Linked DNA regions of Homo sapiens. The protein of the gene in region 1 interacts with the protein of each later gene in a pairwise test. Each region holds a gene or a part of one and is shown in the gene's direction. Other genes may lie near its edges. The genes, in order: CNIH1, SLC10A6 and CD53.

The links.
Region 2: the proteins of CNIH1 (region 1) and SLC10A6 interact in binary tests that used the Homo sapiens proteins (3 or more experiments, as listed by UniProt).
Region 3: the proteins of CNIH1 (region 1) and CD53 interact in binary tests that used the Homo sapiens proteins (3 or more experiments, as listed by UniProt).

What each region holds. Positions count from the first base shown.
Region 1 is NC_000014.9:54,434,716-54,438,447, reverse strand, and holds part of CNIH1 (protein cornichon homolog 1), read left to right. Parts: intron 1-2,010; coding exon 2,011-2,079; intron 2,080-3,732. UniProt on the Homo sapiens protein: Involved in the selective transport and maturation of TGF-alpha family proteins.
Region 2 is NC_000004.12:86,839,189-86,842,920, reverse strand, and holds part of SLC10A6 (sodium-dependent organic anion transporter), read left to right. Parts: intron 1-3,732. UniProt on the Homo sapiens protein: Transports sulfoconjugated steroid hormones from the extracellular compartment into the cytosol in a sodium-dependent manner without hydrolysis.
Region 3 is NC_000001.11:110,893,648-110,897,147, forward strand, and holds part of CD53 (leukocyte surface antigen CD53), read left to right. Parts: intron 1-679; coding exon 680-754; intron 755-1,312; coding exon 1,313-1,408; intron 1,409-3,005; coding exon 3,006-3,086; intron 3,087-3,500. UniProt on the Homo sapiens protein: Structural component of specialized membrane microdomains known as tetraspanin-enriched microdomains (TERMs), which act as platforms for receptor clustering and signaling.

The sequences.
Region 1 (3,732 bases):
TTATTTTTGTTATACTTCTGTAGGAAATTTTGTGGGTGTCTTTGCTCAGCCACATAGCTGCAAAAAGATTTGAAAATCATTAAGAATATTCTCAGAAGAGGTTCGAAAACCCTAGCCTATAGCACTCAAAGAGAAACCCATTCAACAACATAGTTAAAAAATCCCTGTGACCAGGCACAGTGGCTCATTCCTGTAATCCCAGCACTTTGGGAGGCCAAGGCAGGTGGATCACCTGAGCTCAGGAGTTTGAGACCAGCCTGGGCAACATGGTAAAATCCCATCTCTACAAAAACTACAAAAATTAGCCAGGCATGGTGGCATGCACCTGTAGTCCCAGCTACTCCGGAGGCTGAGGCAGGAGAATCATTTGAGCCGAGGAGGTGGAGGTTGCAGTGAGCCGAGATTGTGCCACTGCACTCCAGCCTGGGTGACAGAGTAAGACCCTGTCTCAAGAAAAAAAAAAAAAAAACCCTTGAAGTCACCTGGAGAAAATGTCCAATTAAATGTCAGTTTTAAAGACAAGTTTTGTATTCTGTTAAGTTGGATCTTGTTATAGACAAGTACTTATGATTATCATCCTTGTCTTGAGCTTTATTACTAAAATGCATTGGGGTTATATACCACGGCTGACGTCAAGTAGCAGACTAATAACGTCCATAAGTAATCAGAAATTAGTATTTTCTAATTACACATGTATGTTTTTAACATTTGTGTTAGGTGTCATTAGCCAAGGGAAATCCCCCTGGTGAGTTCTGCATTTTTTTTTTTTAATCCCTAGTGCTATTTTTTTCACCCCCTCCTTCCAGTTAATATTTATTGAACACTTAACTATGTGCCAGGCACTATTTTATATTTTAGGCCCTGGGACATAATAGTAAATACAACAATCTTTGTTCTTTCAGAGATTACATTCTAATGTTTTATTATTTTCCTTCTATTGTTGTTTGGTTGGAGTTTTTATTAGGGCAGGTGGGTGAATTTTATGGAACTCTAGAAATTAAAAAAACCGTCTTTTTATGAATCTAAATTTTAACAGGGAAATAAACAGTCATGTTAAAAGATGGAAATATGTAACTTTACTGATTACTGATAATATTGAGCAACACTTTCACATATAAAGATACTATTCCTAACTCATTAAGGGAAGGGTAGCTTAGTTTGTGTGTCCCTGGGGTGAGTAGTGTTAGCAACTAAAATGGCTCCCCCATCAACTTGCTGCCTTTGTTTTCTTTCTTTGTCACCTGAAATGATGCCACAAAGTGGTGCAGAGTCCCTATTTTGACTCTTAATGTACATTCTAGTGACCCTTGAGGTTGAAGCCACATTCCTCCAGAGTGTGGACAAAAGCATCCTTACAAATGTATGTGTTTGGGCACCAATGGGAACACATTGAAGAGTTCGAATCCATCTCTAGTGTCCCACTGAGCACTGTGCCAAGGGAGGAGGAGCATGCACAGATAAATAAAAATGGTCCTTCTCCCTGAGAGTGTAGAGGGGCAGACAGACCTGTGTGTAAATACCACACTCCAGGGTGAGAAAAGCCATATCGATGGCATTATAGAGTCCCATGCTGTGTGGAGATGTGGGCAATTACTTCTGCCCAAAGGAGTTAGGAAAGCCTGCAGAAAGAAGTTGACCTAGGAAGGTTTGTTTTTTTTTTAGGATAAAGAGGAATTTGGATAAACAGTTGAAATTATTTTTCTACTCAGAAGATTATTTCGAGTAGAGATAAGTTGAAATAACTTGAGCAGAGGCATTGACGAAATTGAAAATTGAAGGTATTTATTACAGTAATACCAAATTTTAGTGATACTGAGATAAGAGTGTTTTCACTTTAAATCGCATTCTGGTTCTTTTTGTCATATATGAGTTTACTGTAAATTGGTATTTGGGATCTTGGTGTACTTTTGTTCTTGTTTTATTAACTTTAATAATTATTTGAAGATGGGGCAGGTTTGTTGCTGCTTTTAATTAAAGTGAGTGGTCCTAACTGTTTTAATTTTATTTTAGATTATAGCATTTGATGAGCTGAAGACTGATTACAAGAATCCTATAGACCAGTGTAATACCCTGAATCCCGTAAGTTATAATATAGGATTTATCTTTAGATTTTAAAAATATGTTTGTTTTTAACTTGAAGTAATTTGAAAATGGCCAGTATTCTGAGTAGCATAATATATTTGTACTTTTTGAAGTAGGCAGAATTTAAAAAATCTTCTTTTTCCTGTCGTGCTTGACTATTCTATTATTAATCTGCTGGTGATCTTGTCAGCTGTCATACTAACATTCTTCCAATCTGCTTTTTACATTGTCGGCCAAAGACAGTTGAAAAGGTCAAAAAGATTAAAAGAGTCAAAATTGCATTAAAGGTGTGTACTGCTTTTTAGTTAAATGTTTTAATGCTATATTCATTTCATGGGGAGGGTTAGGGCATTTGTATTTGTAACGTTTTGTTCAGTGTGCTCGTTCATATGCCTGTTGAGGTTTATGATTTCATGAAATTTCATATTTTATGCAAATATATGCTTGCTGGCCCAGTCAAGTAGGGAAAGCTGTTAAATGCGTATGCGTTTTTTTATGTTATAGCCATAGGCACTTCTATGTGAAATTATTTGGTGTAGTACTTGAAAGTTGGTTAACATAAAATGACTAATAGATGGTGAGATGATTCTCGGGTTGTGACTTATTGTGAGGTAGTATGTGAGTGAAATCTTTAGTATGGACTTATCTGCCATATCTAGTTTTATCTTTGGTTTGCATATTCTGGAATAAATGAGTCATTCTTTCAGCTGATGTTTATTCAGAGCCTGTTAGGTGGATAGCTCTGTTCTGGGGGCTCTGGGATCTCGCAGCAATGCCATTCTTTGGACTTAGGGTGCCATAATTTTGTAGATAACAATTTGTATACAAATGTCTATGTGGTTATTTCTAGTGTGTATCTACTTTCTGTTTCTAAAACAGGCCTGAATTACACTGAGTTCTGAGCCATCATGAATTTAGTGATAATGTAGCTCCATTGTGCTTAGGGTTTTTGAAAAAATATATATGTATGTATTTTTAAATTTTCTTTTGAGATGGGGGTGTCTCTATATTGCCCAGGCTCTTATCAAACTCCTGGGTCAAGTGATCGTCCTGCCTCAATCTCCTGGGTAGCTGGGATTACAGGCACACACCAGGGTACCCAGTTTGTTTTTTTGTATTTTTGCCTGCATTTAGGAAGATACTCTTTTAGCCTGTGTATTTGATTTTGCCTGACTGGTCAGTAATTGAAAGGTTGGTTGTTTATAAGAAAGCAGTGGGTATGTCTTCAAGAAATAAAATACAGTAATTCAGCTTTAAAAATTACTTAACGAAGGGGAGAGTTTGTGTAGATTTTAATTGTCTAGCATACTAGTGTACTAGCACTAGGTGCTAGAGGGATTTTATTTGGAAAAGCATCTAGAAAGTTAGTTTGGTACTTTATTATTGTTTCCCAGATAAATGTGGATGGTGGAAGAGATTTCTAGTTTGTCTTTAGAGAACTGTTACAGTAAGAGTTGATGTAGGTACAATTAAAAGTATTAACTTATTAGCTGTTTCTTTGCTCTTATGAAACAAGACATAAGAAGATGAATTTGCCTTCTCTTGGAAAGCATTAAGTGTTAATTTTAAAACATCTTAACCTAAGTAGTTGAAGTTGTTACCAGGAAATGAAGAAACTGAAATTTCCCCTTTTGATAGCTGTTTATTAAT
Region 2 (3,732 bases), on another chromosome or scaffold:
CAGCCTGGGCAAGTGACAGAGCGAGACTCCATCTCAAAAAAAAAAAGAAAGAAAGAAAGAAAGAAAGAAAGAAAGAAAGAAAGAAAGAAAGAAAGAAAGAAAGAAAGAAAGAAAGAAAGAAAGAAAGAAAGAAAAGAGGTGTCCATTTATTGATGCAACTCAGGACAGCTCCCACTGTCTTGTCTTTTCTTTTCTTTTCTTTTCTTTTCTTTTTTTTTTTTTTGAGACAGGGTCTTAGACTCTGTCATCAGACTGGAGTGCAGTGGTACAATCATGGCTCACTGAAGTCTTGGCCTTCTGGGGTCAAGTGATCCTCTCACCTCAGCCTTCTGAGCAGCGCAGCTGGGACTATAGGCATGCGCCATCATACCCAGCTAATTTTTTATTTTTTATTACAGAGATGAGGTCTCACTATGTTGCCCAGGCTGGTCTTGAACTCCTGGGCTCAAGCAATCCTCCCACCTAGGGTTTCCAAAGTGCTGGGATTACAGGTGTGGGCCACTTACGCCTGGCCTCCCACTATCTTTGTTTGAGAACTTTTGATATATACAAGAGGTCCATTCTTCCGTAAGGATGTATTTATGTCCTCAGCTGCAGACAAAGGATTCTGACCACTGGTGGTGTTGGAGCCTGTGGAGCTCAGTGGCCAACTTTGACCTTTGAACTTTAAAGAAGTTCTTAGTCCTTCAGTAGAGAACCTGGAAATAGAACTTCAAATTGTTCAGGTCTATCTGACATGTCTTGGTGGAAAACTGAAGGTCCTTTGCATTTAAGGCTTTGGAGACAGAACGGAGACTGAATTCATGAGACTTCATGCAAGCTTCCATGTCTCTATGTACTTTAATTTCCTTATCTATACAATGAAAATAATACTCACACATAGAGTTATTATGTAGATGAAAAGAGAAAATGTATATAAAAGCATGAGACATAACACCTAGCACATAGTGCTCAATAAATACTCATTATTATTGGAAGGCAGCAGACAAGGGTAACATTTATATTGAGGGATGGAAAATCGGGCCTTACGCTCTATTCTAGGGTCAAATCTGTTGGTATGATCTTATAGCTCACTCCGTGTCCATCTGGTTAGCTGGATAATTTTTTATTTCTTTCAGTCGGAAAGCAAGTGTATACTTTCATAGTTTTGAGGGTCAGAGTTCCTGATTTTATGGGATTTTTGAAATTAAAACAATTTATAATAACTTAATCTCCAATTGCAAAATGTTATTGACACTGCATTTTAATGTAATGTGTATATATGTAATTTCCCTGCTTTAAGGGAGGGTTCAAGACTGACCTGTTTGTCTAGACTTGCTGAATATGTCTCATTATTTTCTGTAATAGTTTGGAGATGATGATGCTATTCTTCTCAATGCAAGTGGAATCTTGTTATACTGAAGTTAGATTTTGCCAAAAATTTTCCTATACATGAAAAGTCAAGAGACTTACTTAGCCACATCCTCTGTTTATGCTACATTGGAATTTCATGGCTAAAAATACAAGGCGTGACTTTCCACTGTACTCACAGGCATTCACTGTGTGCTTTTCCACCTTTGCTGGTATTTGTAACAGTTGGCAGAGCACCAGGATAACCTCTTGCCATCCTTGACCAATATCATGATCACCATGGGCTTGAAAATTGTATAAACATGGAAGCAATCACATAGGTAATCAAGGATATAGAATCAGTCGGATATAAATCTCACTTTGCTTCCCATAATCATGAGTCTTACCTTTCTGCTGTTTGAGCCAAAGCCATTCAGTAGAGAAATGTTGTGCTGGTTCTCCAGAAGTTCAAGAGTAAAGTGATATAATATGGAATTCCATTCAGGACTTAGTAATATGGAGAGTCAAGGAATGTAGCACTATCATAGACTAAGAATTTGGAAAAAACTTTCTAAACAGCCTCTTTGTGGATACAGAGGTTTGAGAGCTGTGGCAAACTGCTTTTTTTCTTTTAAATTGCCTACTAGTCAGGAAGAAATCTTTGCTTAAAGTAAGCATTCTTAATAGGATAAAATAATTTTGGGTTTCATATGGAATAAAATATAAGCAAGAACTGCTAAGACAAGTTTGAAAAGGGAAATTTATGTGGAGGTATTTGCCCTACCATATATGAGAACACTGTAATTAGTCTAGTATTTGTTCAGGAAAAAAGAAAGTTATTTATCAATGAGCTAGAAGAGAATTTCCAGAAAATATTTTGTGTACACTTGGGCATTTAATAAATGATAAAGGTGACACTTCAGTATAGTGGAAAATGGTTTATTTTAGTAGATTATATTGACACACTTGCATCTCAATATATTAATAGAAAAAATGGATTAGTCTCATACCTGTTACCATGCAAAATATAAATTTTAAGTCAGTTGAAAATATAAGCATAAAAGTAAAAAGTAGAAGACAATATTTGAATGCCCTCGGATCAGGGTAGGTCTTTAAGATAAGAAACTCAGAAGCCATTAAAAAAACAGCTCTGACTATATAAATGTTAATTATGGCAAGTCATAAGCAAAGTCAAAGATATACACCATGCTTGGAAAAAATACTTGTATTATTCATGGTAATATGAGCCCTAATTTTAAAAGAACTCCTACAAGTTGAGAAGAAGTCTGACAAGCAAGATTGTTTAGAGAGGAGGACACAGAAGAAGCCACTTGACATGAAAGAAAGCACAACCTGATAGAATCCAGAGTGTCGGCTGGGTGCAGTGGCTCACGCCTGTAATCCCAACACTTTGGGAGGCCAAGGTGGGTGGATCACCTGAGGTCCGGAGTTCGAGACCAGCTTGGCCAACATGGTAAAACCCATCTCTACTAAAAATTAAAAAAAAAAAAAAAATTAGCCTGGTGTGGTGGCGGGTACCTGTAATCCCACCTATTCCAGAGGCTGGGGCAGAGAGAATTGCTTGAACCTGGGAGGCGGAGCTTGCAGTGAGTCAAGATCAGGCCACTGCACTCCAGACTGGGTGACAGAGTGAGCTCCAGCTAAAAAAAAAAAATAAAAAAAAAAAATAAGAGTGTAACAAGAGTGAGATCAATTTTTCAATGCTGGCATGACAATTAGAAGGGACTGATCACATCCGGAGTAGGCAAGATTGTGAAATGTAGCAATCTTTTTGGAAAGTAGTCTGAAAGTATATATTAAAACAAAAAACACAGACTTTTACATAGCAATTCCACCTTGGGAATTCACAGAAAGAAAAGAATCATTTCAAGTGAAGTATGTATGAGAGTGTTTATTATAACATTATTTATAATGGCAAAAAACTAAAAGCAACTGACCTATGGTTAATGAAGTGATTGAAGAAATTATGGCATATTTAGATTATGGCATATTTCGCAGTTCTTTAAAAGAATAAGTTTAAATGTATTGGTCTGAGAGGATGTCTGTGATAGATGAAGTGGGAAAAAAAGCAAACAAGTTGCAGAGTAAGGTATATTATAAGGTTCCTTTTTTTATTTTTAGAGACAGGGCCTCCTTCTGTCCCCAAAGCTGGAGTGTTGTGGTGTGAGCATAGCTCACTGCAGCCTCAAACTCCTGAGCTCAAGCCATCCTCCTGCCTCAGCCTCCCGAGTAGCTGGGACTACAGGTGTGTACCACCACATTCAGCTAATTTTTGTACTTTTTTTTTTTTTTTTTTTGTAGAGACCAGGGTCTCTCTATGTTGCTCAGGCTGTTGTTAAACTCCTGGTCTTAAGCAATCCTCCCAATTCAGCCTCCCAAATT
Region 3 (3,500 bases), on another chromosome or scaffold:
CCAAGAGAAAGAATTTTTTAAAAAGTCCCTCTTCTCAGATAGTTGTCAGACTAATGGCAAAGGATGGAAGATAGCAGACATGGGGTAAGGCAAATGTTTTAAGCAGTCAAAATTAATGTTGGGGTAAAAAAGGTGAAGGAGAAGGAATAAGTGAAAATGTTTTCTGTTGTGTGTTATTAGCATAAAAGGAGTAAGCATCGAAAGCTGGAAACAAATATGAGTTAGAACCATGGCTAGGACCCTTCTTTCTACCATTGTACAGGGCTCCTCTCAGCCACTACCAGCAGTCCTCCACCCAGAGGTATCCCTGATCTTGTAGAAAGGACCAGGCCCCAAATGATCTAGTTTACCAACCTTTTGCTTAACTGCTTCAATAGGCAGATGTCAAAATTGCTTAACTTATTCAACAGGTGGTGGTGTGTATGTATTATGCATGTAGTGCTCTGATAGGCACAGCAGGTAGGAGAGAGCAAAGAAGACAGTTGATCTGCCCTCTAGAGTCTAATTGTAGAAAAAGAACACATATTTTCACAAAACAAAAGAAGGCTTACAACGGCCTGAGGAGGCAGAACAGGAACACCCTGTACTCGTGCAAATGCCCCTGGATGCTCCCAGAGCTGAGTGGGAGTGGGACGAGAATGGGGATCAGTGCTGTGAGAATGTATCTGCTTTGTCCCAGTTCTTCATCCTGCTGCTGATTATCCTCCTTGCTGAGGTGACCTTGGCCATCCTGCTCTTTGTATATGAACAGAAGGTAAGTTATAAAGACAACAACTTATTGTCTTAATACTGAAAGTGGGGAGTATGCAGTGGAGAAGTTGGTACAAAGTTACAGAATAAGTTCTATAATAGAGATAGAAATGAAGTGGAAGGATAGAGGAAACAGAGAGTAATTGTAATTGGGGGGAAAATTTGTATGAAAGAGATTGTATCTGAGTGGTATCTTGAGGGGTGCCTGGAAAGAGCAGTAAAACAAGTGTCTCTTCCTCTACTTGCTTTCCTCTGTGTGTTTGGCAGGAGAGAATGTCTGCCTCAGTGCCTAAGGATAGCCCTTGCTTTAATTGCTCCTTTTCCTCCCTTGTAAAGCCAGAGCTCTAGAAGGAAGCAAGCCTACTAAATACTTCTTCCTTCAATGCCACCTCATGCTCAGCCTGTATGCCCATAGATAAACACCCTCCCCTCACCCTTAGTTCTGAGGAGACCATTTGGAAGGGAAGCGCAAGTGGAACCACTAACCTATACTGGAAATTCCTTATTCCTTGAACTCACCTGCTTTTTACCATGTCTCCTCTGCTGGAATGTGCCTGCCCAGCTGAATGAGTATGTGGCTAAGGGTCTGACCGACAGCATCCACCGTTACCACTCAGACAATAGCACCAAGGCAGCGTGGGACTCCATCCAGTCATTTGTGAGTACAGGTGGAATCCTCTTCAGATCAGCCCAGACTTCATTTTCAAGCCTAAATCCTTGGGGGCTAGTTCCTTTTTCTGGAAGTTTCAGAATCTAAGGTCCACATCCCTGAATCCCAGAATAATGCCTTGGCTATCACAAACATGGGAGCCCAGTAATTAGTCTGATTAGTACAAAGTTCTCTACATTCTCTCTTTCATCCTTTTCTAACATGAATAGGTTTATTTTCTAAGTTCTGCTAGGATGTGAAGAAGACCCAAACACAGCAAACTGGATTAGTTTATGTATTTTCCAAAATTTTACTGAAAACAGCATTGTATAACACAAGAAATTGCCATTGAGTTCCCGAGTTGCCCAAATCAGGCTTGTTACCTAGCCCACCAACATCCCATTCCTCATGTGCTGTTTCCACCCACAAACGTGTATATGTACAGCATATACAAGCTCTGCATTCCTGACATGATGTGTTGGGAGATAAAGATGGAGCCTTGCACCAGTATAATCTATTTGTGTCTCGAAACAGTACCACTATGAAAGCACGCTGGCTTAGTGTGGAGTAGAAGAAATGGCACAGGAATTAGAGCCTGGAGACCAGAATTGGGTAGCCCTGGGGAAGTCACTTAACTTATTTAGATCTCCAATTCTTTATTTTTTTAATTCAGTTTAGAAAACTTTTTATTACATAATTTTTAGAAATATACAAAAGAGAAAAACAGAAAAATGAATCTCCCAACTCTTCAATAGTTAACATTTTCCAGTGTCATCTCATCTAATTCCCCACACTTTTTTCGTTAGAATATGTTAAAGCAAATACTAGACAATATATTATTTCACCCACTAAATATAAAAGAACTTCTTTTTAATACACCTAAAATTTTATAATTTCTTAATACCACTAATAAAGTCTATAATTAAATTTCCCTAATTTTCTCAAAAAATTTTAATTGACTTGTTCAAATCAAGATCTTAACAAGGCCTATGTGTTTATATTTGAATGATAGGTCTCTCTATTTATCTTTTAATCTATAATAGTACACCTCTTTGTTCTTGCTCTTTGTGGAAAGAAATTAGGCTATTTGTCCTTTAGACTTCTCCACTCTCTAGATCAGGCTAGTTGCTTCCTCGAGTATTTTGGTATCAGGGAGTCTCTGTCTCCCATAAGCCCCATGAACTTAAAAGTTTGATGTGGTTTTTGTTTTGTGGTAAGACTGCCATAGCTGTCACTTCCTGTTGCATCGTGTAAGCAGGTACATAATGTCTGATGGTCCTCCTTTCTGTGATCTTAAGATTGGTTGGTGGGTCCAGGGGTGGTCAGCCTAATCCCTCCATTATGCAGTCCCTGGGTGCCTTATTCTTGATCTGTAAAATGTGACTAGATTAAGCACAGGGGTCTCTACTCCACAGGGATCTTATGTGAATGAAATGGTATAACAGATTAGAAAGCACTTTGTTTTAAGGAGCCCATAGCAATCAGACCAATTCTGGACTTCTGCTATAGAGTCAGATCTGAAGGGCACACCTTTTCCTCTAAGGTCCACAGCTTTTTTTCACTGTTGACTTTCTAACCATCATCATTTTGGGGGTTTGGCTTTTAGCTGCAGTGTTGTGGTATAAATGGCACGAGTGATTGGACCAGTGGCCCACCAGCATCTTGCCCCTCAGATCGAAAAGTGGAGGTAATTTTGTCGGCAATGTTTCTGTTATTGACCTCTTTGTTTAAATGTTTAATTACCTCGGAAACTGCAGTCATAGAGGACCTAGACCTTCTATTGAGAAACAGGGGACCTTGAATAAAAGAGAGGCCAGGGCAACAACCTTGGGTAATTAGAAAAGTCAGAAAAACATACAAACAAACTCATTTAGACTAGAGACACTGTGATTGATCTTGCTACACTAGACTATTACATTAGAGGGGAACAGTTACTTTTGTGTGAAAGTAGGAGAGGGTTGTGTCTAGATATTTCTTAAGCAAGAAGTAGGTCTCCTTATGGTTAAAGTGAAATGTATAGGGTTGAGATAGAAAAGTTTCTCCCTCTCCCTCTTTCTCTGCTCTTCTTCCTTGGAGATGGCAGAATCCAGCCCCTTAGGGA